Linked DNA regions of Homo sapiens. The protein of the gene in region 2 purifies or fractionates together with the protein of the main gene of each other region. This does not show direct contact. Each region holds a gene or a part of one and is shown on either strand. Other genes may lie near its edges.

Region 1 (7,184 bases), on a different chromosome or scaffold from region 2:
CTGAGATCGCGCCACTGCACTCCAGCCTGGGCGACAGAGCGAGACTTTGTCTCAAAAAAAAACAAAACAAACAAAAAAAAGATTTAGAAAGGAATTTGATACCTGTCTTCCAATATTTGAAAATACTGTAGGTAGAGAATAATTTAAAACCCCTTTTAGTAGGTCATTAAGTAAGATGCTTAGATTATCACTTTTGGGGGATGTTTTCAGGGCTGGAGAAGAGGACCTTCCTCAGTTAAAAACAGACAAAAAATTTACTCCTTATCCATTCTGCTTAATTGGGCTAAATGAAATCCTTCTATTTTTTTCAATAGAGCTAAAATTTTTAATCTTCAGTTCTCTAAATCCTTTTTAAAAATGTGGTTCCATCTTAAAATTAAATTACATTATTTTAAAAAATGTAGTTAGGAAGTTAAAATGTGATGTTAAAATATAATTATTAAAATATAACTAGTTCCAATCTAAAAAGAAATTATAAGATTGCATTATTGAATTTCAAAGACCATTTTCTGAAGACTTTTCCTTAAAACTTACTAAGATATTAAACCTGTATGTTTTATTCATATGCATTGATAGATATTTACATTCACAGGTATTGTATTTACAACTAACGATTTTTCAATTTACTACTGTAGATCATACCTCACTCCTGTTAGGGATGAAGAGTCTGAATCCCAAAGAAAAGCAAGATCTAGACAAGCAAGACAATCTAGAAGATCAACACAGGTATAGTTAATGTAATTAATATATAAAACTTACATAAGTAGCATATAAAATATATATACACACACTGACATAAAACAAGTTACCTTTCTCTTTTTCACTTTGTTGTGAAAATATTGATGTCAGTATATAGTGTGAGTAAATCCTTAAAAGGTAAAGGTTGCTGTAGTTATTCTAGTAATTCTAGTGTGAATAAATCCTTAAAAGGTAAAGGTTGCTCATAGCCTTTTGTATGGTTACACTGCTACTATTGTATTTCATCTAATTAGCATATGCCTTTGTGTCTTTTTGAGTATTTTTTAAATCCTTATTCCTAATACAGTGTCTGGCCCAGAGTATTTGGTTAGAATAAATTAATCATATGATGTCTAATAAGTATTTAAAAGTTCTATGAATATTTGGAAATCGGGGGCAGAGAATAGGCTCGTATATTAGGTATAAACAACTAATATGCAAGTATGAAGAAAATGTCATTCAGGCTGGCGATCTCCTTACCTCCGTTTTGCCATTCTGATTATGCTGTATATGATGTATACTTTTGTGTCTTTCTGCTTTCCCACAGTTAAGAAGCTCCACAGTCCAGATTCAGCTGTCTATCCTTACCATTACTTAGCTTTCAAGCTGAACTATTTGCTAGGGCCTTAATATACTTTTTCTGTCTTTATACTTTTCACTTCTTGAAATCTAACCTGTTCTTCAAGGTCAAATCTTGAAAAATTTATCGAAATCTCTTTTAAGCCTTAACAATCATCATGCATGTGTATATAGATACATATACACACATATATATACACACACACAGACATATATATAAACATAAATATTTATAATATACAAACAGTACAGATACTGGCTATTCTTCTCTAGTTTGAACTTGTGGGGAACATTTATATGCATAGAGTATCCAGTACCTATCGTTGTGCTTGCTAATGGTGATTCTTCATAGAATGAATGTAACTTGCTGTTTCCATTTGCAAACCAATTTTAAACATGCATATTTGACTTTTAATGCATTTGTATGTAATATATCTATTTCTAAAATATTCCTTGAAACAAGCTTTAATGCATCTCATAATTATATTGATCTTTTTGTGTGTGCAGGGAGTGACATTAACTGATCTTCAAGAAGCTGAGAAAACAATAGGAAGAAGTCGTTCTACCCGAACCAGAGAACAAGAAAATGAAGAAAAAGAAAAAGAGGAAAAAGAGAAACAAGATAAAGAGAAACAAGAAGAAAAGAAGGAGTCAGAAACATCTAGAGAAGATGAATATAAACAAAAGTACTCCAGAACGTATGATGAGGTAACAGTATATCAAAAGCACATTTAAGTCAAATGGTATGAATAGTCCTTATGATCCTTAACATACAAGAGATTTATATACCAACAAACCATATGCAAAATACTGTAAAGGATTTTAGCTGGAAATTTGAATTACTTTGGCGTGATTAGTATACTACTTTTTCTTTGAAATGAATTTTTAAGTATTTTTATGTTTTTAATTGTGTTTAATGTTTCAAATGGGTTTTGATCTTAATGTTTCACAGACTTACCAGCGTTATAGGCCAGTATCAACTTCAAGTTCAACCACTCCATCCTCTTCACTTTCTACTATGAGCAGTTCACTGTATGCTTCAAGTCAACTAAACAGGCCAAATAGTCTTGTAGGCATAACTTCTGCTTACTCCAGAGGAATAACAAAAGAAAATGAAAGAGGTAAGAATACCAAATTTTGAAAACACTTTGCTTTCTTCATATAATCCTTTGGATTAGGGTTTCCTAAATAATAATTCAACAGTAAAGGAACAGCATCCTAACTTGTGATTCATCGAACCTAAACAGAAAGAATATGAAGGTTGAGAATGAGAAAAGTAGAAAACAGAAATAGAATATGGCCTGCTGTTGATACTAATATTTTTATAACCTAATACTTCACAAAAATCTTCATGTCCACCTACAACGAAAAGTTAATATCGAACTGGTGGGTGACTATTTCTAGAAGCAGTTTACTAGTGTAGTACTTCTCAGATGCTTTAAGCTATTTCTTGCCTACTGTGTAGATCATATCATTTAAATGTTTTTTTGTGAAATTGTTGTAAACTAAAATTACTAACTACATGTAATGCTCTCACTAAAACACATTTTTATGCTTATTTCTTAAAAAATACATTTCTTTCTCAACTATATATTGGCATATTGATACTCATTACCATTTCCTATTATTTTATATAAACTTTCTATTTAAATTCTGAGTAATTCCTACTTTAAATCAGATATAAGTACTAAATATAGGCATTTCATATTTTAAAGCCTAAATCTTACAGTATTAGTCATGATAATATCAGTAGTAATGTAGAATAAACAGCAGAAAATAAAGTTTTTTCCCAATTTCCAGCTATATATTTTCTCATGTTGATCATTGAGATGTTTCAGTTCTTTAAACTTCTATGTGTGAGGCCTGCATTGTGTTTGTAAAAATGTTGAACCAACATTTAAAATTAGAGATACTCACTTCAAACTTCAGATTTTTGCCATTTCTTGAAAAGTTGGCTGACCTGGCAACACTGGATCTGAATTCTCACATACCAACAATTGGCTGGAGCTAAGTAGTAGCAGCTGCCTACCTTCCATCCCCCTAGATAGTCCCCTGGCCCATTTTACCCATTGTTTTTACAATTACCTTGCAAAATATTGTCAAGATATATTGCTATATTGTGGTTCATTGCAATCCTTAACAGAGGGAGAAAAAAGAGAAGAGGAGAAAGAAGGAGAAGATAAATCACAACCTAAATCAATCAGAGAACGACGACGACCAAGAGAGAAAAGAAGATCTACAGGAGTTTCATTTTGGACACAAGATGTGAGAACCTATTAAAATACATTATTTGATAGTATTCTTGATAGTATTCTTAATGTGTCCAAAAATACATACTAATAATTTCTTATATGCCTTAGATTTCATATTCCTTAAATCATCACTGTGTTTTCTGAGTTGTTAAATAAGAAAAATTATTTTTAAGGATAGTTAACTACTTAGATTGTTGGTACTACTTAAAAGGAGTGGTTCTGACCTAATTATGGAATAGAAATAATAATGTCTGAAGCTCAGAGTGCATGTATTGATTATTTTATAATAGGTAAACTGCTTCTTGTAAAAACATCTTTTAAGAATTTCTAAGGAGTCTATTTAATTTCATTTTCATAAATATCATTATAAGATCTACATTACAGATTACTTCCATCTCAAAGCATGCTAAATAGACACAGTGCTTTGCTTATCAAATTACAACAGTCTTGTAAAAATTAGTGTTTTCCTGGTCCTTGATTGTAGGCCTGACATTGCTATTCATTGATTTTGTTTCCATTTTCTAAAAAATAAACCTTTTATTGAAGTATGGCATGTTTAGAAACATAATTCATACATGTATAGCTTAATGGATTAGCACAATAGGAGCATATCTATGTAATCACCACTCAGAATGATGAATAAAAACAGCAGTGTAGATTGCCCCCATGTTCTCCCTCTCAATCCCTATCATCCTCATTTTCAAAGTCAGCTAGTATCCTGATTTCTAACACCGTAGTTAACTATGCCTGTTTTTGAAGAGCATATGACTAGAACTATAAATTTTATAACTGTTATGTTTATAAGATATATCTATGCTATTTTATGTAGCAGTACATTTACTTCTATTGTTATAAAAATATTTTTTAAAGAAAATTTCTAACTATTCTTTCACTGAAAGAACATGGAATCATCTGTCTTCCTGTTAAACTGACCCATCTCTCACTATATGTTCCTCTTTATCTCTAATATTATATCTGACCTTAAATTCTGCTTTTTTGAAAAGCTTCCTTTTGATTATCTTTGTATAATATATCTTTTCTGTTATTTTCAATTTATTTGTGTTTTTTTTAATAAACAACATATTTAGGTCAACTTTTTTCTGAACTTTTTTTTAATTGCAGTGTTTCAGTCCATTTTAATTTTACTTAATTACTAATTACTTAATTACATGAAACAAATAACATTGTCATTTGCAGTTTAAAATATATAAAGAGCTAAGGCATATGAAAACAATAGCACAAAAATATGGGAAAGTATTAAATGGAGTTGAAGAGTTTTAGTATCTTCGCATTGTCCATGCTGTGGACAAAATATATATTCAACTTGATGAATCAAGAGTGCATATGTCTATTTAAAAAAGTTTAAAAAGAGAGGGAAAATCATACATAAATGACAAAGAAGGGAAGAACAGATGGGGAAATCGGAAAATAGTTTTCTATTTTTCTTTTGATTTTTAATATAGAAAAGTTAAACATATACTTTATAGAAGTAACATAATAGTATAATGAGCCCTACCCCCAGTATTCATTTTTTCAGCTAAATTCCCACTCCATCTCCCAACTCCCATATTATTTAGAAGAAAATCCTAGACATCTCATTCTATCTACAAATGTCTCAATGTATATTCTGAGAGAGAAGGACTCCCAAAAATAATTTTAAAAAATAAATTTTGAAATTATTACTAAAATTTCCTAAAATATAAATTGGCAATCTGTTTTTAGAGTGATGAAAATGAACAAGAACAACAATCAGACACAGAAGAGGGATCCAATAAGAAAGAAACTCAGGTAAATACCATTACTTTTTGTATTGAGAAGTATTCATATTTTTTAATAATTACTTTTAAATTGCGTTTTATTATGTTTATTCATGCAAAGCAGTTATTGCATACTCTACCTACATGCTGGGTATGCAATATCAGTGTTTGCCTGGGGATCAGGATTAAAAGGACTGGGAAGGGTCACAAAATAATGTTTTGGAGGTGATGAAAATGTTCTGAGTCTTGATCCTAGCAGTGGTTTTATGGATATACAGAACTGCCAAAACTCACCAAATTGTACACTCTAAGTGGATGTAATTTAATGTATGTCATTTAACCTTCGGAGTTAAAAGAAAAAGCAAAAAAAGAAATAGTACCCTTGGCCAAAGGAAAATATCTAAAGGATAATCAGAAGTAGTGGAAATCCAGAAGTAGTAGGCTCAGATTTTATTTCTGTAGATTTTATTTCAAAGTTATGTTCTGGAGAATATAGGCATCTTTTAACTTTCTTTTACATATATTTAGAAATTTAGAGTCTCCAACAGATTTTTATGTTGAGAATCTAAAAGACATTTTTTTCCTCTCAGTACTGATGAAGGACCTAAAGCAAGTTTGAATGACAAGGCTGCACAGCCAGCAAGGGTTGAAAGTTCCCCCGACCCCCTTCCTGATTGTTTGGCTGTGTAGAAAGCTAAAAAATATTCAAAATATTTCTGTTCATATGAGGATAGAGCTGAACAACACGAGTCTAAACCTGGCACTGTCTAGCATGAAATAGCATTCTGGTCATATTAATATTATTTTCTTCATTTTGAGTTGAAGTTCCTTAATAGAGCTATTACATTTCTTTTTAGTCAGCAAGGATCTACAGTAATGTGAACAAAAGTTGGTTACCTGTGCTAGGTGACGGTGAACATTATTTTAGGGCCAAGTTTGCCTATTTTGACCCCACAATTTTATTTTATCTTTAGGTGGCCAGACAATGAGGAGTGAATTGGTTCTGAGGTTAAATTATTTGCAGGCCTAAAGCTTTAACTGTTACCTAAATTTTTTGGTTATCAGTTATCAGAACTCCCCAATTTACCTATGTCCCTTCTTTATTAAACAAGAGGGGAGGAAATTAGTAAACCATCCCCATCTGACACCTCTCATTGCCTTATCACGCAGACTCCAGCCCCCACCAGGCTGGAGTGGAAGGGAGATTGTCTGGCTTTTAAAGTTGTAATTTTGAAGCATATTGATGTATACTGTATTTTAAGTTTTACTGTTAAAATCATATGAGATACGTTAAGATGAAGAGGAACATTGTTTCTAAGACGAAAAGTTTTTTTATTTTCAATTTAAGTAGTTTTTGTTTACTTTAGATTGTTTAGAGTTCTTTTAAAGTAATGAATAACATATAAATAAATATAACAAATATAAATAACAATATGAAACCTAAGTCAAACTGGATTAAACAAAGAAAATGTATTGTACTCCAGTTATATTCTGCAGTCCTTTGTGTCAGCTTCATCCTCAGGCTGATGTACCTCATAGGGATAGGATTATAGTTGGCTTAGGATAGACAGGGCCTATCACTGAACTGTTGCAGCCATTTTGCTACCAACATGGGCCATGTGTCATCTCACCTAAACCTAGTAACTGCTATACCATGAGAAAAAGGAAGAATGGATGTAGATAAATAAATAAGGTGCAATGTATGTGCATAGATCAATATTTTCTATATTCACATAGATATTATGTGTCCAGAAAAGGTTGGTTAGATAACAGTGGTTATCTAGAGAATGGAGGGATGAGGAATTACACAGGAACTTTGTATACCATTATGTGAACTTTACAATACCATAGTCAGAAA
Region 2 (7,606 bases):
GTCTTCCCCTGATGTTCTCTGAGGAAGCAGTGTCCCATGGAATCAAAAACTGACGGAACTTGCCAAGCACAGAAGTCAGTGCTCAAAACCACTATTTGGCCACCAAGCACTGAACAGGTCTTGGTTTGCTCAGGGCCCTGGCAGTCTTTATGGTCATGATGCTCTGCCCTGGCCATCTTCAGAGTCACCCATAGAGCCTCTCTGGTCCCGGCCCCACCCCCCAGATCCTAAATGAGTTCACCACAGGTGGGACGAGGCATTTGCAAGAAACTCGAATCTCAGAATGATGAAAAAGGGTGAGCTCCCTCACTTGGAGTGCTGACAGTTTAGCTGGGGAGACTCCATGTGAAGATATAAACCCTGGCATGGACCTCTAAGGCCACAGATGGAGTCAGTGTGAGACAGCATGATAAAGACAGTGCCTGTGACTGCTGACGGGGTCAGAAGCCCTGCATCTACGGGACAGGGTTAAGTGAAAGGCTACAAAGAGGAGGCAAGACTTAAGTGGTGAGGACAGTGGCCATACATCCCAGTTTGCCTGGGACTGTCTCAGTTTAAACCCGATGTCATGGGTAACCCCTCCAGTGAACAGCCCCTTTTACTCTCACCTGTGCTGGGCTGGACAATCAATTATTCAGTCACCCTAGTTATGAGCTACCAATGCCTGCCTTGCTGGAAACCAAACGATGAAAAGCAAGTGTTCACTGTCTCACAGGGAGAACTAGGCAAAGGATGACTGAAAAATCAGTTCAAACCACTAATCCTTAAACTCACAGCCTTACCTTGCCCAGCACATTTATCTACACATGAGAGCCATTACTAAGACAAACACAGACTAGGAAGCAGAGGAACTCCGCCGCCACCGCACAGGAGCCGCGGGGGTACCCTGGAGAGGACGATCAGCCTCAGGGCAGGCCATCTAGAAGAATTACCAATAACACCAACCCATTCGTCTCTCTATAAAGTGCTGACATCTGTGCTCTGGAACTTACAGCTGAGAGAGCACAAAACTTGTCTGACTCAGCACAGTCCAGGAAGTCAAGCAGCTCAATCTCAAACAGGACAGTGGTGTTTGGGGGGATCAAGGGAGGGCAGCCCAGCGTTCCATAGGCGTAGTTCGGTTTGAACAGAAACCTGGCCAGCTCTCCTCTCCGCATGCTCAGAAGGCCCAGCTCCATGCCCCACAGTGTAATATCTGTAAGAATGGACAAAGAAGGTGGGTGAAGCTTGCTCAGTATCCTGCTCAGTGCTATCAGTTTCTTCCCCCTCTAAGTCAGCAGTACTCTGGCCTCCATGTCTCCCTCACACAGTTCCCTCTTCCTGCAATGTCTTCCTCCTGAGCCTGTGCCCAGCTTCTACTGATATAAATTTTATTCAAACTTCCAGGCTCAGTTCAAATGCCCCCACTTCCAGGAAGCCTTCCCTGAACCTCCCAGCTAGAATTAATCATGCCTTCATTAAGCACACCCACAACACTGCTTTCACCTCCCAGGCACTCATCCGATTCTACCAAGTGAGCTGAGTGCAGGTCAGTCTCCTCCACTACATTGTGAGGTCCTTAAGGGTGGAGATGTTCTAATCTTCTGAGTACATCCTCTCTTTTCACCATGTATTGTGGGAAGTAAGTATTCGATTGAGTTTTACTTAATAAATGAACAAAGAAACATTCCCAGTGGTTAGTTAAGTCAGAGTGCAAAGATTATACCTTGCCCGTTAAGCCATCTCCCAAATGCCTAGGTCTCAAGGGGAGAGAACATGGCTGTGTTACCAAAACCCAGCCTCAGCAAAGCCAACTCAAAGAACCTGCGCTCTGAGCAGTCTTCCCAGCCTGAGGCATCGTGCCTCATCTAGCCCCTAAACAATTCCTTCTTCTCCAGCTCCCACTCTGAACCTACCCTCTCCAAGTTTCATTAGCCGAGGAGTTTTCCTAAAGTAATTAGAATCGAAGGGTCTGTCCATGTGTTCCAGGTATCCCGAGTATTTCACTAGGATAGAAGAAAGAATGTAAGGAAAATGGACCAAAAACACCCACGCCACCATAATATCGAGTCTCTCATGATCACACAGAAACAATGTGAACAGATGAGCTTAAGCTGCCCGACACCCCGAGGTACAGGAATAAATCTTCTCTCTGCATTTTGGGTGCCGGCCCTTTGGCTCAGAGGTTCAAGAGCTTTGCGGAAGCATCACACAAAGGGGACATAGGAGTCCCTAGCTTTCGTCTTAAAAAAACTAATTCAGGCCGGAAGCAGCGGCTCATGCTTGTAATCCCAGCTACTGGGGAGGCTGAGGTGGGAGGCTCACTTGGGTCCAGGAGTCTGAGACCAGCCTGGGCAACATAGAGTCCCCCATATCTACAAAAATATTAAAAATTAGCCGGGCATGGTGGATCGCGCCTGTAAATCCCTTATTTGGGAGGCTGAGGCAGGAGAATCACGAGCCCAGGAGGTGGAGGCTGCAGTGAGCTATGATCGCACCACTGCACTCCAGCCTGGGCAACTGAGCAAGACCCCGTTTCAAAAACAAAAAACAAAAATCCACTTCAAACAAAGCATTTCCAACCCCATTAAGTGCTTTTTGAAAATGAGGCCTCTCTCTTCCCAACAGAGTGCGATGACATGGATCCTGAGGACAAACCGCCCCAGGGCGTACCTAGCACCGAAGCATCAGGCGCCACTAGGTCTCCAGCTCCTTCTCGGATGACGTCCTTCAGCACGCCCCGGTCCCCCGAGATGTCCAGCATCCTCTGACTTAACCGCTCGTACAGGGACTGATGGAGAATGAAAGCCAGGCCTCAGAGCCGCAGACCCACCCGGCCACCCCTCAGCGTCTACGCCCCCGAAACGTCTGGGCCCTCACCTGGCCGGGGGCGTCGTCCCCTTCCAGGACTCCCTGGTTTAACGCGCTTCCCCCCATGTCCTAGCTGCCCTCCCTGTGGCGTGAGCCTTCGGCCTGGTGCGCCCCGCTGCCCTCCCTGGCTGTGACTCTGGTGGGGTTCCGAAGGCCCCTTTATGCCCGGCAGACCCCTACCGACGGCGGCATTCCATTCTGGGGCCACGAGGAGGCACTCATCGTTTCGTTCCAACCGCCGCCAACGGCCCTGGCCCTCGCGAGCTCTGGAACTACAGAGGCCACGCGGTGAGGTGCGAGGTATGATCCGTAATGGGAGCGCACGAAACATGATGGGACACGTAACGGGACCACGCAGGGCACGTTGGGTACGTGCAGGGGCGCGAGGTGGCGGCACGTAATGGGAGCGCGCAGAGCATGATGGGGCACGCGCGGTAGCGCGAGGCGGGGCATGTAACCATAGCGTGCGGGTCATGATGAGGCACGGACGTGGGGGGTTAGGTGGGGCACGTAATTGGAGCTCGCGGGGCAGGATGGGGCATCTAACTGGAGCGACAGAGAGCACGATGGGGCACTTACAGGGGCCGGAGGCTGGGTACGTAACGAGAGCGAGCGGGAAATGATGGGGCACCTAACGAGCACGCAGAGCATGATGGGGCACGGGTGCGAGGTGGGGCGCACAGTGGGAGCGCGTGGGGCATGATGAGACACATGGCGAGGCCATCAGGGCACAGGGGAAGCACTTTTGGAACACGTGAGTGACAGGGCTGCCGCCCTTGAAGGAGCCCTCGGAGTGGCTGCGTGGTGGGGCACGTGGGGCAGGTTCAGGAAAAAGGATGCAGCATGTGATTGCAGGGCAACCTGGTGAGGACACGAGAGCCACCTGCCACCAGCAGGGTTCAGGGCTCCCAGCTGTGGGTTACTTCCACCTTCTTTCACTTTCTCTCTTCCATTGTGTTCTAGAGAATTTAGGCCCAGACAAGACACTGATTGATTGATTGATTGATTGATTGACAGAGGCTCGTTCTGAGCCCAGGCTGGAGTTCAGTGATGGATCTCAGCTCACTGCAGCCGCCACTCCCTGGGCTCAAGAGATCCTCTTGCCTCAGCCTCCCGAGTAGCTGGGATTACAGAACTGCACCACCAGGCCCAGCTAATTTATTTTTTAGTTTTTAATTTGCTGGAAAGATGGTTTGTAGCTTTGTTGCTAGGCTGGTCTTGAACTCCTGGCTTCAAGTGATCCTCCAGTCTTGGCCTCCCAAAGTGCTGGGATTATAGGCGTAAGCTACAGCCAACTTTCAATACTGCCCCATTGGGGGTTAAGTTTCCAACACATGAAATTAGGAGGATACATTCAAACCACAGCAGTATATTATGACCATAATATTCATTAACTGTATAACAGGACAGGCGCGGTGGCTCACACCTGTAATCCCAGCACTTTGGGAGGCCAAAGCCGGTGGATCGCTCCAGGTCAGGAGTTTGAGACCAGCCTGCCCCACATGATGAAACCCCATCTCTACTAAAATTACAAAGAATTAGCCGGGCATGGTGGCAGGCGCCTGTAACCCCAGCTACTTGGGAGGCTGAGGCAGGAGAATCACTTGAACCCGGGAGGCGGAGGTTGCAATGAGCCAGATTGCGCCACTGCACTCCAGCCTGGGTAACAAGAGCAAAACTCTGTCTCAGAAAACAAACAAAACCTGTATAACAGAGTGTCATTGAATTTCTAAACGTTGAAAGACTTCACATTAAAAAAAAAACTCACAATTCAATATTATTGAGTGAAAGTAACCAGACACAAAAGAGTACATTCTATATGATGCTGTTTATGTGAAATTCAAAAACAGTCCACATGACAACATGGTAATAAGGACAGTGGCTGTCCTTGTTAGGAGTTATGACTGGGAGGAGGCAGGAGGGAGCTTTCTGGAATCACTCTACATCTTGTTCTTGAGAGTGGGTGTATATACATCAAGTGTTTATCAAGCTGTGTGGTTAAGATTTGCACACTTGTATATGTTATACCTTGATTTAAAAAATCTAAGTAAATAAGGATACCTTTGAATATCTTAAAAAAAAAAAAAAAAGAGGCCAGGCTTGGTGGCTCACACCTATAATCCCAGCACTTTGGGAGGCTGAGGTAGGAGGATTGCTTGAGGCCGGGAGTTCAAAACCAGCCCAGGCAACAAAGCGAGACCCCTGTCTCTACTAAAATAAATAAAACAATAAAATGAAAAAAAATAGAGAGATTGAATCATCATCTGCCAGTTTGTATTAGAAAAAAAGAGAGAGAGAGGGAAGGCTGGGTGCAGTAAGGCTCACGCCTGTAATCCCAGCACTTTGGGAGGCCAAGGTGGGAGGATTGCTTGAGCCCAGAAGTTGAAGACCAGCCTGGGCAACAAAGCAAGACCCGGTATCTAAAAAAATTTTTTAAATATTAGCTTGGCATGGTGGCATGCACCTGTAGTCCCAGCTACTCAGGCAGCTGAGGTAGGAGGATGGCTTGAGCCTAGGAGTTGGAGGCTACAGTGAGCTATGACCACGCCACTGCACTCCAGCCTGGGCAACAGAGCAACAAGCTGTCTTTCCCCACCCCCCAGCCCCCCCGCCCAAAAAAAGGAGAGTAAGAGCAAGAGTTTGAGATTCAGAAAGAACTGTTTCCCAGCACCTATCTGCTCCTGTTGGGGTCATGAGGTGTGGACGGTGTACCCAGTCCCTCTGTTTCTGCCCCTCCTCCACAGTGGCCAAGGCCAGCACCTGAATGTTATCAGAGCAGGCCCAACAAAGGCTGCCTCCCCAGTCCCGTGATGTAACCCAGTTTCCACCTGATTCTGGTGACCTTGGGGACACAGGGGTGTTGCTGGGAAAGGGGAGGAGAGAAGGGGCAGAGACCAGGCAGTGGTGCAGGCGTCCAGCTGCATTTCCCACTTCTGACTCTGTGCCTGCTGTTCCCTGCTGGGAAGAAGGAAAGCCAGTGATGCTGGCTTGAGGCTGTAGTGGGAGGCCCAGCGGATTGTGAGAAGCCAGGTATTCCAATGTCGGGCTCCCCCGGGGGCTGCTGGTGCTGCTTCTGTCTCATTGACAAGCTTTCATAGGGGAGCAGGTGGGAGATCAGGGTAGAGGCCTTGTAGGTTCCAGGCTCTCTAGAATTACCTGGGAGTGTCACCTATAAGTGTAGAGTTCTGGGTCTCACTGGAGACCCCCTGAAGAAGATCCTTTGAAGGTGGGCCTCTAGAATCTCTATTACACCTATGCTTTCAACAGTTTCCCGAAAGTTTGGGAACTGATCTAGAAGGTGGGGAGCTTGCCTAGGTTTTGCTGTTCAGTTCTAGGTCCGGATGCATGCTGGGGCTGGACCTTGCATTATTAGTGTCACTGCAAATGACCCTGCAGATGGCCCCTTTCATGCTTGTCTCCAAATTTGAGTAAAAAATGTAGACACACACACACACACACACACACACACACACACACACATATCTTCAAGGGACCAGTTTTTTTCACTGCAGTCTTTTGTTTTACAGCTGCGGAAACTGGGGCCCAAGGTCATGTGGGTTAGGACTGGGATCCAGGACTCAAAGTGTTTCCTCTAAAATTCTGGTGCTCCTTAGGGTTGAGGGTGGTGGATGAGTGCTGGACAGGGGGAGGGGAGGGGACAGGACTGAGGTCGGATGCCTGTGTTTCAGCCCGGGCAGTGAGTGTGGATGGCTTGGCAGGTGAGCCTGCCAGAGCTGGAGGACCGGCTTCAGTGTCCCATCTGCCTGGAGGTCTTCAAGGAGCCCCTGATGCTGCAGTGTGGCCACTCTTACTGCAAGGGCTGCCTGGTTTCCCTGTCCTGCCACCTGGATGCCGAGCTGCGCTGCCCCGTGTGCCGGCAGGCGGTGGACGGCAGCAGCTCCCTGCCCAACGTCTCCCTGGCCAGGGTGATCGAAGCCCTGAGGCTCCCTGGGGACCCGGAGCCCAAGGTCTGCGTGCACCACCGGAACCCGCTCAGCCTTTTCTGCGAGAAGGACCAGGAGCTCATCTGTGGCCTCTGCGGTCTGCTGGGCTCCCACCAACACCACCCGGTCACGCCCGTCTCCACCGTCTACAGCCGCATGAAGGTGGGGAGTGAGGGTGCAGGGGCGGCTGGAGAGGCCCGCGGGGACCAGATCCTGTGCTCTCTGGTGCCATCACCTGGCACCAAAAGGATCCAGCTATCCTCGATTTCCCTGCAGCTGTGCCCTGGCGCATTCATTCCTTAGCGTTTGAGCTGCAGCTCAACCCAGGTGCCGGGGATTGAAGCCACACGAACAGGATGGGAGCTCCCTGGTGTCACGTGCTCACCCCTTCCTGTTTTTTTATTTGCAGTTCTGGTTTGTTCCTTTTTCTTTTCTTCCTTCTCCTTCCCTCTTCCCTCTTCCCTCTTCCTCTCCCTCTCCCTCTCTCCTTTCTTTTTTTTCTTTCTTTTTGGAGACAGCGTCTCACTCTGTTGCCCAGGCTGGAGTGCAGTGGTGTGATCATGGCTCACTGCAGCCTCCAACTCCTAGGCTGAAGCAATCCTCCCACCTCAGCCTCCCGAGCAGCTGGGGCTACAGGTGCACACCACCATGCCCAGCTCATTTTTCATATTTTGTAGAAATGGGGTCTTGTTATGTTGCCCAGGCTGGTGTTGAACTCCTTGGCCTCCAATGATCCTCCTGCCTGGGCCTCCCAAAGTGCTGGAATTATAGGCATGCACCACTGCCCTAGGCCCCTTGTTTGTGTCTGGACA
Region 3 (7,923 bases), on a different chromosome or scaffold from region 2:
AGGGCAGATGGACACACCTGCAAACCGCACCACACAGTCTGTATCTGTGAAAGCAGCATCTACATCCTCCAGCTGCAGGGGACCTACTCCCACACGAAGCTTGACAATCACCTCTTCTGCACTCTGCCTCCAATCGAGCAACAACTCTGGAGTGGGAGTAGCCAAGAGATCATGAGGGTCTTCACAAGCTCCTGATGGTGATAAGCAGGTAACAGAGACCCAGCCTAATGAAACTGCTTCAGATGGGAGCCAAATTGCAAGTGCCCCCTCCCCTTCCCTAGCAACAAAAAGCCCATTCGTTACTGACCCTCTTTGGTCTGCTCCTCTTGAGGAGTGGATGCTGACCCTGACGATGAAGGAAAGAACAGCCGGGTACGGTGGCGTGAGCCTGTGATCCCAGCTGCATGGGAGGCTGAGGCAGAAGGATCACCTGAGGCCAGAGGTTCAAGACCAGCCTGGGCAACATATCGAGACCCTGTCTCTAAAAAAAAAATAAGAAAAATTAGTCAAGCATGGTGAGGAGGCTGAGGTAGGAGGACTGCTTGAGCCCAGGACTTTGAGGATGCAGTAAGCTACGATCACACCTGCACTGCACTCCAATCTGTGCAAGAGTGAGACCCTGCCTTTAAAAAAAAAAAAAAAAAAGGGACAGGCACGGTGGTTCACGCCTGCAATCCCAGCACTTTGAGAGGCCGAGGTGGGTGGATCACCTGAGGTCAGGAGTTTGTGACCAGTCTGGCCAACATGGTGAAACCCCGTCTCTACTAAAAATACAAAAATTAGCTGAGTGTGGTGGTGCATACCTGTAATCCCAGCTACTTGGGAGGCTGAGGCTACTTGGGAGGCTGAGGCAGCAGAATCACTTGAACCCGGGAGGCAGAGCCCGCAGTGAGCCAAGACGCCACTACACTCTAGCCTGGATGACAGAGTGAGACATTGTCTCAAAAAAAAAAAAAAAATTAGCCTTGCGTGGTGGCATGCACCTGTAATCCCAGCTACTTGGGAGGCTGAGGCAGGACAATCACCTGAACCAGGAGGTGGACGTTGCAGTGAGCCAATATTGCACCACTGCACTCCAGCCTGGGCTACAGAATGAGACTCCATCTCAAAAAAAAAAGGAAAAAAAGAACAGGTTCAAAAAAAAGAAAAAAGTTTAAAAAGGAAAGAAGGCAAGCCCCCCAACAGCACCATCTTCTGGATCTTAGCCAAGTACTCAGGCTTCAAAGCTGAGGCTCTACTGAGGTTATCATGGGTCCTTCTTCTCTCATCATCAAACCAGGACAGAGAGAAGAACAAGAAAGTCATCTCCCAAACCCCAATCTGTATACCAATAAGATGGGAGGCAGAGAAGGCCACAATTACTCTGGGAATGCCACTCCCACCTTTCCTAGGATCTCCATCCTTGCTCTCCTGGTTTGCTCGATCCTTCTGCTTCTTCTTACTAGTGGTGTCCTCCAGTCCTGGGGGCCCTCTCCTTGGGCCTGTGGCACTGGCCCCGCCAGACATCTTGAGCCGCTTGGTCGACAGCCAGAGTGCCCCGGGGTCGGCAACAGCGTCTGGGTCAGGGCTGCGGCGCTTTCTTCCTGGCCCAGCTATCTTGGCAACTCTTTGTGGCCAAATTCTCCAGCAAGGAACGGACAGCCTAATGGAAAGAAGCCAGTGATCACTGCCAAGACCCAACAACTTGCTCTTTAGCTACACCCAGGGCTCAGCAACACAGGACACTAATGCTACAGAGCTGTATCTTCTCATCTCTTAAGTACCCCTGGACACTCTCAGGATATTCTGAAGAGGTAATAAATAATGCAAGTAGCAGCAACCACTTCTGGCCAAGCCTCATAGATACCCACCATAACAGTCCCACACAGGTGAAAGCCTCACTGAGGGGGCACCAGGTCAAGGAAGTCATGGCCTGGGACCAGGCTACTCCACCAATCTGGAGAGGAGCCACGGCTCCAGCCCACAGGGCTGGCACTCCGAGCAGGGTGCTCACTTTTCCTTCACTCTCACTGGCTGCTTAGTCACCACTGGAGAAATAGAAGGTGGAGGAGGAAGGCAGGACAGGAGACAAGCCGCAGGAGAACCAGGCTCTGTGGCTGTAAACAGGCTCAACCCAGGTTCTACCATTGCCCAGAAAAAGTCCTGGGGCTAAGGCACTCCACCTGCCTCCTGCCAGCTCCCACCCTTGGCAAGAACCTGCTCCTATGTACTGCTTGGTCCTTCTTCATTTCAAGAGAAAGTCCTCTCCCCAGCTGCTGTCCCAAGCAGAAAGGGACTGAAAAGTGTATCTAGATGTCACGCTACCTCTTCAGCAGCAACCCTGCTCCAGTACTAAGGCAGGATGGGCATCCAGTTTGAGACTGGAACAGAAATTATCACCTTCCTTCCCAGATGCCTTCACTCATGAGCTCTGAGCCACAAGGACCACTACAGTTTCCCACAGACCCACCAGTGGATTCTGGACTGTTTCCTCCTCCAAAATGAAGGTCTTGAAACTAGATACTGAGATGAGGCTGGGGAGGACCACAGATCCAGGACTCCTGGCAGCCTCAAGCCTGGCCTGAACCAGTAGCAGGACAGATAATGACTAGTCTGTGTTCCCCTAAGTGTGTAAAGGAGGAAGGAGGGATGGCAGGATACCCTTCTACAGGTCAGATGTGGTACTGGTGGGCTGGATCTTTAATGACACCTGCCACCGGCGCCTCCTTCTTGCACCCAGGCCCCAGCCGAAGGTCGCGTCCCTCCCCCATGCCCCAGGGACGTCGAGGCGGGTAAGGGGCTGTTTAGAGACCCGAGCCGGCCTGAAATGGCAGCGCGGGGTTACTGACCACAGATCAGCGCCCCGGTCGAGCTGCGACCCAGCTTCAGCCTCTGAACCCCGAGCCCGCCACCACCTCTCCCACGAAGTTGCCCTCGCTGGCCGCCAGTCCTCTCCCAGGTGGGAGGCTGGCCACAGGCATAGCGTAACGGCCCTGCCGGCATCAGTGGGCTGGCACGCTGCGGGGCACTAGGGGTAGGGACTGGCACGGCCCGTGACCTTGAACAGGCCGCCGCGGCCGCGCGTTGCGGCCTCCCCGCTGCGGCCAAGCCAGCGAGTTGCAGCCTGCTCCACTCACCGAGCGAGACCGCCGCAGCCAGCCCTCTTCGGGCCCTGGCAACCCGCTCTCCGTTCCGGTTCCGGCGCAGGTCGGTTCCGGTTCCGGCGCGCCCCTCCCCCGTCCCGGCGCCGCCGCCACCGCCTTAGCGGCTTGTTTTGTTTCGACTTCTAGCTAAGGCCGAGGGAGGCGGAGCGCCAAGCTGGTGACGCACTTCCGGCGGGAATGGGCTCGGAGCGACCCGCAGCTCCGGGGCGGGCCCGAGCGGAAGGAGGCGGTGCTCGGGTGGCTTAGCGGTGCATGGGTTCTGCTGGGGGCAACCTCGAGGTTCCCCTGGAGACTCCCCCGCCCGCCCCAAATCAGAGTCCAGACAACACAGTGGGGGTTCACACTGGTTTATTGGGGGCCCTGCCGGGCCAAGAGCTCTTCAGTGCATAGGCAGACATGCATGTGGGGCAGTGCTAGGAACTGGGGTAGGCCTTGGGCAGGGGTCACTGGCAGGTGTTGTAGATCTGCACCTGCAAGTTGATGGCTTGAAGCACGCTGCGCATCCTGGCCTCCAACCCGTCCAACTGGGCTGCCTTACTCTCCAGTGCCCGCTCATTTTCCTCATAGGTGCCTTCCAATTCTAGGAAGGGCAGGTGTCAGTTTAGGGGGGGTTTCCCGCAGTCTTGTGTCTCTGGTGCCCCATTTCTTACCCTGTAGCCGCTGCAGCTTGTCCTGAGCGGCTTGCAACAGGTCCCGAGCCTCATCCCGCAGTTGTTCTGCCCTTGCCTGTGCAGCCAGCACACCTTGGGCCTTGCGCTCAGCTAGGGCCTTCACCGTCTGGTACTGATCACCCAGAGGACCGCGTAGCAGCTGCAGATGTAGAGGGTTAGGTTAGCGTGGTAGCTCAGTGGAGGCCCATCTTCCACCCCTACCTTCTCCAGCTGGCTCTGCCTCAACCCACCTGCTCAGCCTCCTGGGCACGACCCTGGGCACTGCCTGCCGTTTCTTCTGCTGTAGAGGCTGCCAGACTATTTCCTGCCCGTTTCAATTTCAGAGCCTCCAGGAGAGCATCCAACTGCCGAGCCCTTTCACCTGCAGAGCTCAGTGCCCGCTCTGCACCTGCCATCCTCTCCTGTACCTGCCATGGGTGAGCCAAAGGTTACACAGATCTACGGTTCATGCCCATAACCTTGTCCCACTGATGTCCTAGGAAGACCTCACCTGGTACAGGGTCTGCTCTGTGTCCCGTGTGTCAGCCACTGCCCCCCGGATGGCACCCTGGGCAATACCCTGTGCCCGCTGGGCCTCCTCCAGTGCTGCCTGTACTGTCTCTGCCTTCTGTTTCTCATCCTCAGCCCAGCTCCTGGGGAGAAGGGGGAATCAGAACCTGGAGGTATCAAAACCAGGTGTCAGGGATAGGGGCCAGGGATGGGGTCAGACCTTGCCCGCCGTGCATCCTGCAGTAGCTGCTCGGCACGACGCACATCTCCTACAGTACGTGCCAGGATCGCATCCACATCTGCCAGGCTCCGGACTCGCTCTGCAATCGCACCCGCCAGGTGCTGGATCTGCTCAGCTGAAGCTGGGATGGAGAGCTCTAGCACCCGTGTGGCCACCATTTCAATGCTATCAGGATCAGCCCCCTCCTCTATAGGGACACAGCAAGAACTTAAGAACATAGATTCTCCAGCATGGGCATGAGGATACAGTTTTGGGGTATGGACTCAGGACATGTACATGGGATAGGGGTTTGTTACCAGGCATAAGGATATAATCACAAGGACAGGGACTATACAAGGGGCTCAGACTCAAGAACATGGACCTGGGACCACATATGGGCAATAACTCAGGAGCCAGTCAAGGGATCATAAACACTAATCCAGTGTAGTCCCTGAGGCTCAAGTATGAACCAAGGGAGATACAGACACCGGGAGTTGCCAAAGGGGACAACCACATGGCCTGGGACACGTGGGAGGCTCACGGTTGAGGAAGTCCTTCACACTCTGGATAAGTTCTTGAAGTTCCTGGTTGGCCTGTTCCACCTGTCCCCTGGAAGCATTAGCCTTGTCCAGGGCTGCCTGGGCCCGCTGCTGTGCCTCGCTTGCCTGCCGACGAGTCTCAGCCACTCTGCTGAGGATGCTACCACCTTCTGCCAGTGCCCGCTGCAGCTCTGCCTGTGTGTGCCGGGCCCGGCCCAGTGCTAGGTCTGCTGTAGCCGCTGCCCCATTGCAGCTGAGGCCCCCACAGCGCGGCTGCCCATCCTCATCTCGACAGCCGGCACCCCCACAAGGGCTTGTAGCACAGGGTGCATCCCCTGGTGCCCCACACACCTGCCAGGCACAGAACAAGTCAGGGCCCTGTGAGAGGAACATCTACACCCACCTGCCCCACCCAACACTTCAACCTCACCAGCTCATTTATGTCTGTCAGGCTCAGGGTGTGGGTATGGGCAGAGAGCTTGCCAAGTGCCCGCTGGTTGGCCATGTGTTTGCTGTTGAAGTCCTCCTTCTGAGCATCCATCAGTGCCTCTGTCCGATGCCGAGCACTTGCCGAGTTGCTCACAGGGCTAGGTACTGCCAGGGCTGAGGTATTGGCACGACGTTCTGCCTCTGCAGACTGGCTATGGGCATGCCGGATGCTGTCATAGGCACCTAAATTGGGCAGAGGCAGACAGTCAGCTGAAGACTGACCCTGGTCCACCTGCCTAGTTGGCTAACAACTCACCCAGGAAGTTTGAATGTTTGAGCAAGTCAAGATGCTGGTCGAGCTGCCGCAGTGTGAGATTAAGTGCAAGCCTATCTCGCTCCAGACCACTTAGTGCATGGTTGGCATTGAAGTTCTCATCTTGCACATCTGTCAGGTCTGCCTCGAGCTGAGTCAGGTGCTCAGTGGCCTCCCCAATTTCACGCCTGCAATGATGGAGAGGGGGGTGTTTAGAGAGGCTTCAGCCCTGGTCCACTGGGCCTCTGCCCCATCCCACCATGTATTCTTAGGCCCTTCCGCACCGCAGCTCCTCTGTGGCCTCCACAAGCTGTGCAGTGGAGGCGGCTGAGGTGTTGCGGGCACCTACGATGCCCTGCACAATGCCCAGCTTCTCCTGCATGTGCCAGAAGCTGCTCTCAAAGGCACCCAGCACACCCGTCTGTTGCAACTCCTGCGCCCGCTGCTCTAGGCGCTGTGTACGGGCTGCCAAGTCCTGCACCACTCGGTCCCAATCCCCGAAGCATGCATGGCAGGGATGGCAGGCAGGAAAGATTCCTGAGAAGCCACGGGCACACTGGTCACAGCGCACACCAGACACCCCTGGGCGGCAGCTGCAGTGACCTGTGAAGCGGTGACACTGAGGTGTATCTATTCCACGAGAGTCACAATCACAGGCTGCAAGAAAGAGCAGAGCACAGAGTTAGGGTCACTGTGGGGCATTCTGGGAAGTCCTCCATCTACCCTGGCCCCGCTGGCTCCCTCACCATGGCACTGCAACCCAGGGTCTCCCCAGTGGAGCTCTTGGCACTCAGAACAAGTCCGCCCTCCAAAGCCGGCACGGCAGTGGCACTGCCCTGTGAACTGGGGTGGGAACAAGGCAGGGTCAGAGCCTCTATAAGAGGCTAAGCCCTGGAGATAAGACAGACACCTGGCCCCATCTAACCAGGGATCTGCAGGAGGGTCCCATACCTCGTTGCAGGTGGGGCCTCTGGCCCGGCTTGGGTGGCAGGCACAAGGCTGGCAACCATGGCCACTGGTGAGGTTCCAGAAGTTGGGGGCACAGCGGTCACAGCTAGGGCCCTGGACATTGGGGAGGCATGGGCACTGCCCACTGCTTGGATCACAGTGGCACTGGTCAGGAGATGGGCACTGCTGCGGATTTGTGCCCAGCAGGTTGCATGTGCAGCCTGTGCCAACCAAGATGAGCACAGTAGTCAAGAGGAGGCCAAGAAGCAGAACCCCAATTCAGCCATGCCCTCCCACACTCATACTCACGGTGACAGCTCTGTCGGGCAGCCTGCCCATGGAAGCCAGGCTTGCAGTGGGCACAGTGTGGACCCTCTGTGTGGTGTAAACAGCGCAGGCATTGCCCCGTGTGGGGGTCACAGGCATCAGGATCCATTGGGTCAATGTTCCCACTGCACTCACACAGTTGGCACCGGCCACCTGGCCTTGATGGGTCCCCAAAGTGCCCAGGGGCACAAGCTTCACATCGCAGCCCTGCCCACGGTTAAGAGGAAGCTGTGAGTGCTCAGCCCAGCCAACTCACCCTGATCCCACGCCTGCCCCCATCCACTCACCCGTATAGCCTGCCCGGCAGTGGCACACAATCTGCTGGGAATATTCATCCTGGTGGCAAGAAGTAGCAAAGTGCCGTTGGCTCCCAGGGCCTTCAGGACAGGGACAGGGCCGGCACTGGCCCCCATATGGCAGCCGTGGGTCCCCGTGGAAACCAGCAATGCACCTGCAGGGAGGAGGAAGAAGAAATGTGTCATCCCTGGGAAGCCTGCCCACCAACCAACCCACTCATAGCTGCTCCAGTCTCACCTTTCACAGTGCTCACCCCCTGTGTGATCACGGCAGCCCAGGCAAGCGCCTGTGTGGGTGTTGCACTCATCTGCATGCCCATTGCAGACACATGGCCGGCAGCTAGGGAATCCCCACTGGCCACGCTGGCAGCGGTCACAGCGAAGCCCAAAGGCACCAGTTCGACAGAGACATTGCCCACTGGTCTTTTCACAGAGACTGCTGAGTGCCCCCTCGTGGCTGCACTGGCAGGCTAGGAGCAAGGCAGAGCTGAGCCAGAGCCAGGGGAGGGGGTCTGAGGGGAGTGTGGGTGGGGGAGGGTCTCAGGGGA
Region 4 (7,184 bases), on a different chromosome or scaffold from region 2:
TTTTTTTTTTTTTTTTTGAGACGGAGTCTCGCTCTGTCACCCAGGCTGGAGTGCAGTGGTGCCACCTTGGCTCACTGCAACCTCCACCTCCCGGGTTCAAGTGATTCTCCTGCCTCAGTCTCCCGAGTAGCTGGGACAACAGGCGCGTGCGACCACGCCCGGCTAATTTTTTGTATATTTAGTAGAGACAGGGTTTCACCGTGTTAGCCAGGATGGTCTCAATCTCCTGACCTCGTGATCTGCCTGCCTTGGCCTCCCAAAGTGCTGGGATTACAGGCGTGAGCCACCGCGCCTGGGCAAAGCTTCAGTTTTTCAATTGAATTGCCTCATGAAACAAACATAAACTCTGCATGCCTGATAAAACTTTAAGCCCCCAAATTTTACTCAAACTGGTTACAATCTAAGATCAGAAGAAACAATTTTTTTAAATGACACTTCAAAAGCAGGAAAAACCCCAACATATTCACAGACAAAAACAACATCAACAAATTGGGCAAGCACTCAATTAGCAATCCAAATGAGGCTTCAATTCCTTGTCCTATATGACATTCTGGGCCAAGGTCTTAATCTGGATTTATTATTACTATGTTGAACCATTAAAGATTTATTAGACATCCCAAACCTCCATATTTCACCATCTTAGAGAAGATATATATGTAATTCTCCTCCATAAGCATAAAATAGTCTCAAATACTGATAAATATAGTACTCCCCTGACACTCCTCAAGAGCCAGAATGCTAGAACAGAAATCGGTTATGTAGCCAATTTCCTATTATAAGTTATAATAGTAACCAACTATTCTGGAGACCAATCCCAAAATTCAAGTTAGTTTCTAAATTGTATCTACTGCTAAGTAAAAGTAACAAGCAGCACAGAATCAGATACACAGTAGACACTCAAGAAATAAATGTAAGAGAATGGCAGAAAAAACTGTTTATTGGTACTAACCTCCCTATCACTGTTCCCCCAAGGCTGCCTTCCAGTGGAAGTGCTAATGAGTGGGAAATGGGCCAAACTAGACTGAGAAGTAAAATAAACTAGATAAGCAGCCATCAGTAATAGGGACATAACTTTCTTGCCCCTATTATCAGGTTTAATATCCTAAAATATTCTTAACTGATGAATAATGAAACCACCTGAACTAGCCAGAATTCAGCTTTTAAAGTGTCTTGCCACATATTTTGGGCCCTCATTTAAATTACAATTATATTGATGGAAAATCTATATTTTTTCTCCCAAAAGTCAACAGAAAGACAAGTTATCCTTAATGCAAAAAAAAACTTCATATAACCTCCACAAAAGTCTTCAAAAATATCTCTACTGAAAGTGCTCTTTCAAAGTTTAAATGACCAAATCCAACAGTCTTTTTACAGGCCTTCTCCTCAATTTCCTTTTACATTATTTACCATCCATTCCTTGAAATACCTCAATATCACTGTTTGTCGGTTCTTCTCTGTATTAGTTTCCTATTGCTGCTATAACAAATTACCATAAACTTAGTTGCTTAAAACAACACAAATTTATTATCATAGCATTCTGGAGGTCAGAAGTCTGAATCATGGCCAGATGCAGTGGCTCACAACTGTAATCCCCAGTGGCTCACACCTGTAATCCTTGGGAGGCCAAGGCGGGTGGATCACCTGAAGTCAGGAGTTTGAGACCAGCCTGGCCAACAAGGCAAAACCACGTCTCTACTAAAAATACAAAAATTAGCTGGTTGTGGTGGTGGGCGCCTGTAATCCCAGCTAATAAGGAGGCTGAGGCAGGAGAATCGCTTGATCCCGGGCAGCGGAGGTTGTAGTGAGCCAAGATTGTGCCACTGCACTCCAGCCTAGGGGTCAAGAGCAAAATTCAGTCTCAAAAAAAAAAAAAAAAAGTCTGAAATCAGTCTCATTGGGCTGAGTTGTCAAATTGCTGGCAGGGCTGGTTCCTTATGTGGAGGCTCTGAGAGAAGAATCCACTTCCTTGCCTTTTTCAGCTTCTAGGGTCCACCTGCATTCCTTGGCTCACAGAACCTTCCTGGAATCCCTGCAATCTCTTGCTTCCTTCATCACATCTCCTATTCTGATTCTGCTCTCTTGCCTGTCTTATATGGATGCTTGTGATTATATTGGGCTCACCTGGATAATCCAGGCTAATCTCCTTATCTCAAGATCCTTAAATTAATCATATCCCCAAAGTCTCTTTTACCCTGTAAGGTAACATATTTACATGTTCTGGGGATTAGGACTTAGACATTTTTGGGGCACCATTAGTCAGCCTACCACATCTTCCAACAGCTCTAACTTGAATTTCTGCATTCTCTGCCTACCAGCTGCTTGTGTTTTCTGCTCTTCTCTGTATGTTTTCTCCCTTTCCTCTTTCACACTCATTACTTCAACTCTCACCTTTATGCTAAAATCAAGTCTCTTGTCTCAAATATGAGAAAACTGGAGCATAGATAGGAAAGTGACTAGCCTTGAGTCACATAGATACCTACAGGATATTTACTTACTTACTTACTTATTTATTTGAGACACAGTCTTGCTCTGCTCTGTCACCCAGGCTGGAGTGCAGTGGTGTGAACACAGCTCACTGCAGCTTCAACCTCCTGGGCTCAAGTGATCCTTCCACCTCAGCCTCCTATGTAACTGGGACCACATGTTTGCACCACCATACCTGGCTAATTTTTTTTTGGGTGGGGAGGGGGTTGGAGAGATAGGGTCTCACCACATTGCTCAGGCTGGTCTCAAACTCCTGGTCTCCAGCAATCCTCCCGCCTTGGCCTCCCAAAGTGCTGGGATTACAGATATGGGCCACCATGCTAAACACCTATAGGAGATTTCTATTTGTACGTCTTCAGAGTACCTCAGTCTAATCGTTGACTGAATACTATTTCTACCTGAATAACACAATTCTTTCAGACTCACAAGCTAGAATTGTACTACACTTTTTTCTCATCTCCATTCACTCAGCTGGTTCTCTCAACTCTGTCTCTCCATTCATTCAGAAATCCAAGTGCTGCTTCAGAATCCTAAAATACTGCTTTGGTTGGGTAACGACCCTGCTCAAACCCACAAAAATTCTCTACTAAGGAGTCCATCAAGCCACCTTGGCCTGATGTTTGATGTTCAAAGCCCTCTAGGATGTCACCCTGACTCTCTCTCATCTCTAACCCTTCAAACACATCCATTAGGATTTCCTAGCATCCTCTGCCTACACACCACACCCATTCCTATTTATTCGCCCATGCTGCTCTACCATCCTGGACTGCCTTCGTTTGTCCTTCCACTTAGGAATACATCCTTTCCAGGGTATCATAGAATTTGGAACTCTAAAAGGAATCTTTTTTTTATTTATCTGTTTCCAAACCTGACTGTTAGTTCCTTGAGGGCAGAAATTATACCACATATATACTCTAGTACAGACTTACAATCTACCATTTAGACATTCAATATTAGTTGTTAATTAAGAATCTAAGAAAACCTCTAAAGAGAAAAATATAGTGGAACACGGCCAGGCATGGTGGCTCACGCCTATAATCCCAGCACTTTGGGAGGCTGAGGCGGGTGGATTACCTGAGGTCAAGAGTTCAAGACCAGCCTGGCCAACATGGTGAAACCCCGTCTCTACTAAAAATACAAAAATTAGCTAGGATGGTCTCGATCTCCTGACCTCGTGATCCACCCGCCCAAAACCCCGTCTCTACTAAAAATACAAAAAAAATTAGCTGCGCATGGTGGCAGGCACCTGCGGTCCCAGCTACTCGGGAGGCTGAGGCAGGAGAATGGCGTGAACCCGGGAGGCAGAGCTTGCAGTGAGCTGAGATCACACCACTGCACTCCAGCCTGGGCGACGGAGCAAGACTCCGTCTCAAAAAAAAAAACAACAACAAAAAAAACAATTAGCCAGGCGTGGTGTCACCCCCCTGTAATCCCAGCTACTCAGGAGGCTACGGCAGGAGAATTGCTTGAGCCCGGGACGCAGAGGTTGCAGTGAGTCGAGATCGTGCACTGCACTCCAGCCTGGCTGACAGAGCGAGACTCTGTCTCAAAAAAAAAAAAGAATGGGACACATGTAATTAATGGCATATTATTCAAATATCAAAAACTTTACTCTAGGCCAGGCATGGTGGCTCTTGTTTGTTTATAGACACAGGGTGTCACTCTGTCATCCAGGCTGGAATGCAGTGGCACGATCATGGCTCACTGCAACTCCAGTTCCTGGACTCAAGCTATCCTCCCGCCTCAGCCTCCCAAGTAGCTGCAACTACAGACATGCACCAACATGCCTGGCTAATTTTATTTTTTTGTAAAGACAAGGTTTTGCTATGTTGCCCACGCTGGTCTCAAACTCCTGAGCTCAAGTGATCCTCCTGCCTCAGCCTCCATCTATTGTGATTATTGGGACAAAATAACTGATGAATGACTGTCATGGGCTGAGGGTGGGAGGAGCTGTCTACCAAGGAGCACAAAAAATCTTGAGGGTAACGTTCTACATCTTGATTACAGTGGTGGTTCCACAACTGTACGCATTTGTCAAAACTCATACGATGCTACACTACAAAGAGTGAATTTTATTGTATATAAAGTATATCTTAGTTTTAAAATATTTTAAAAGAAAAAAATAAACTACTTAGTTTTATGTTAACAACAAGACTGGTCCAACTCCTTACCTTTGGCAGAATTGTGCTTAATCCATATATATTGACAGGTTGCCTATTTCAAAATACTCACAGAGTAGAAGATTCTAAAAGCCCAAATGGTGATATACAGTTATTCAGCAGGAGTTGAAGAATTGGGGAGAGGCCAGGCATAGTGGCTCCTACTTGTAATCCGAGCACTTTGGGAGGCCGAGGGGGGAGGATTGTTTTAGCCCAGGAGTTCAAGATCAGCCCTGGCAACATAGTGAGACCCCCTTGTCTACAAAAAATTTTAAAAATTAGCTGGGTATGATGGGGTGTGCCTGTAGTCCCAGTTACTAAGGAGGCTGAGGTGGGGAGGATCACTTGAGCCTGAGAGGTTGCAGCTGCAGTGATCCATGGTCACACCACCACACTCCAGTCTGGGTAACAGGGCAAGACCCTGTCACACACACACACACACACACACACACACACACACACACACACAAAGAAGAAGAATAGGGAAGAAATTCTGCGGAACAAATGAAAGTCATTTTTATTTATACTTTCAAAAAAAAAAACCACACAGACAAAAAGCTGAATTTCCCAATATGGCTTTGAGGTCCAACATAGTCTGATGCAACATATTAAGCAATTTGAAGAGGTAAGCTACTAAAATGGCTCAGGATAGATGACTATTCTAGATGCACAATAATAAAGGAGCAAACAGGATTTTTCTGAATCCTATGTTGCCATGGGTCCTGACACTAAGCAGAATTCATCAATATTCAGGGTAAGGCAAAAGTAACTTCGCAGGTGGAACCAGGAGAGGAATGAGTAATAAATGTAGAATAAAAGAGAAAAGGTTAAAAGCACAAGTTTTATTTTACCATATGAGTTAGCACACAAAATATACTATTTTATATTGAACTGAACACACATTCATCTTACTCATCTTCTGTCTCTGTCTGAATATAAATTGCTCAGCCTATCCTCCTCCCCTCACTTGTTCCTATCTCCATCTCTCTTCCTGAGAAATACGTGATTTTAGCCTCCCTAAGTCTACAGCGTCAGACTGAGGCAACTCTAGAATGACAAAGGCTTATTCAACTACAAACTGAATTCCAGTCTGGTGTGACCTTGAGGGTCCAAATTTGGACCCTGCACATTACAAAGACAGTCTGAATTTCTTTTTTCTTTTTTTTTTGAAACGGAGTCTCACTCTTTTACCCAGGCTGGAGTGCAGTGGTGTGATCTCAGCTCACTGTAACCTCCACCTCCTGGGTTCAAGCGATTCTCCTGCCTCAGCCTCCCCGAGTAACTGGGACTACAGGTGTGCACCACCACACCAGGCTAATTTTTGTATTTTTAGTAGAGACGGGATTTTGCAATGTTGACCAGGCTGGTCTCGAACTCCTGACCTCGTGATCCACCTGCCTCAGCCTCCCAAAGTGGTGGGATTACAAGCGTGAGCCACCACCCCCGGCCGCCAGTGTGAATTTCTGAGTCAAGTATGGAATTATTCTAATCTCCTTGGTAGCCCTCCAGATGAAGACTGATCAGACCGTGCTAAGAGACAAGACCTATGGTGACTGAAATCCAGCATCCCTCACCACACTCAGCACAGATTTAAGAGTCAACATAATACATGCTGAAGTAAGTAAGCATTCATTTTAATAAATCCTAGAAAAATCTCTTTTCTGAAAGTAGGCACTTGCCTCTTCCCACAGCAATAATTTGGTAGATATCATGTATCTAGGCCTAGAGTACCTAAGATTATAATGCTAAGGATATCAAGATAGGTGCTAACAGTCAAACTTAATAAATAAATAAAAGAAAAAATTTAAAGTACTATTCCACATAGAATTATTAACAAATATTCCTGGCCTTACAATGTGTATACGCAAATGAAACAGAAATTCCTTTGTGAGCAAACAAGTGCTTTCAAGGGTTCTATAATCAGATTAATACCTTGTTAAGGACTCTAGGACAACACATGCATACACACCAAATCTTAATTTAGTCACTGAAATTTAGTCTGCATCAGTTTCCAAGGCTTTCATCAGAGTTGGTCTAACCTTTGAGATACTTCTTATCCCAGTCTAACTCAAGTATTATTAATAGGCCCCCTGGAGCTTGTTATCTTTGACTCAAGCACCTCGTGGTCTCAGCAAAGGCTGCCAAGAAAGAAGGTCTCTAAGTCCAAAAGAAGCATCAAGGCACCACAAGCTGCAGTGCAAATCATCTACTGTGACGTTGTAGGAGGAGAAAAATTGTCCCCCAGTATTATCTGGGGGCTTCTAACATGCCAAGACAATAATCCACAGTTGGTCAAGTGGCCATGGCCAAAAGAGAGAAAAGAAGCAATTATCCAGATAATTTATATCGTGCTTGTATAACAAATGGACATTTTAAATAAATAATTCAGATAATTGTACCACTCACTCTCCATTTCACAGAAGGTGAATCCATTGTAAAGTAGGTGGTTCAGCTACCAACAGCTCCAGTCTCCCATTTGAAAATAGTCTTTTATGTACCTTAGGAGTTCTCCAGGTCGGCCATGCGCGGTGGCTCATGCCT

Evidence for each region.
Region 1: the proteins of FKBP6 (region 2) and PPP1R12A purify together in Homo sapiens (affinity purification with mass spectrometry; 3 studies listed by BioGRID and IntAct, with this or other methods). This does not show direct contact.
Region 3: the proteins of FKBP6 (region 2) and USP19 purify together in Homo sapiens (affinity purification with mass spectrometry; 4 studies listed by BioGRID and IntAct, with this or other methods). This does not show direct contact.
Region 4: the proteins of FKBP6 (region 2) and PPP1R12B purify together in Homo sapiens (affinity purification with mass spectrometry; 3 studies listed by BioGRID and IntAct, with this or other methods). This does not show direct contact.

The regions. Positions count from the first base shown.
Region 1 is NC_000012.12:79,792,036-79,799,219, reverse strand, and holds part of PPP1R12A (protein phosphatase 1 regulatory subunit 12A), read left to right. Parts: intron 1-635; coding exon 636-726; intron 727-1,824; coding exon 1,825-2,025; intron 2,026-2,269; coding exon 2,270-2,438; intron 2,439-3,460; coding exon 3,461-3,582; intron 3,583-5,291; coding exon 5,292-5,357; intron 5,358-7,184. UniProt on the Homo sapiens protein: Key regulator of protein phosphatase 1C (PPP1C). Mediates binding to myosin. As part of the PPP1C complex, involved in dephosphorylation of PLK1. Capable of inhibiting HIF1AN-dependent suppression of HIF1A activity.
Region 2 is NC_000007.14:73,323,739-73,331,344, reverse strand, and holds the start of FKBP6 (inactive peptidyl-prolyl cis-trans isomerase FKBP6), read right to left. Parts: upstream 3,185-7,606; 5' UTR 3,073-3,184; coding exon of another isoform or gene 3,031-3,072; 5' UTR 2,917-3,030; coding exon 2,860-2,916; intron 2,771-2,859; coding exon 2,653-2,770; intron 1,986-2,652; coding exon 1,896-1,985; intron 1,196-1,895; coding exon 993-1,195; intron 1-992. Other genes in the region: E3 ubiquitin-protein ligase TRIM50, read left to right, coding at 6,558-6,956. UniProt on the Homo sapiens protein: Has an essential role in spermatogenesis. It is required to repress transposable elements and prevent their mobilization, which is essential for the germline integrity.
Region 3 is NC_000003.12:49,117,640-49,125,562, forward strand, and holds the start of USP19 (ubiquitin carboxyl-terminal hydrolase 19), read right to left. Parts: upstream 3,185-7,923; 5' UTR 3,117-3,184; exon of another isoform or gene 2,829-3,116; intron 1,643-2,828; 5' UTR 1,507-1,642; coding exon 1,383-1,506; intron 482-1,382; coding exon 308-481; intron 192-307; coding exon 18-191; intron 1-17. Other genes in the region: LAMB2 (laminin subunit beta-2 precursor), read right to left, coding at 3,587-3,723, 3,794-3,953, 4,045-4,221, 4,305-4,446, 4,524-4,731, 5,065-5,413, 5,493-5,734, 5,808-5,992 and 6 more. UniProt on the Homo sapiens protein: Deubiquitinating enzyme that regulates the degradation of various proteins by removing ubiquitin moieties, thereby preventing their proteasomal degradation. Stabilizes RNF123, which promotes CDKN1B degradation and contributes to cell proliferation.
Region 4 is NC_000001.11:202,351,515-202,358,698, reverse strand, and holds part of PPP1R12B (protein phosphatase 1 regulatory subunit 12B), read right to left. Parts: intron 1-7,184. UniProt on the Homo sapiens protein: Regulates myosin phosphatase activity. Augments Ca(2+) sensitivity of the contractile apparatus.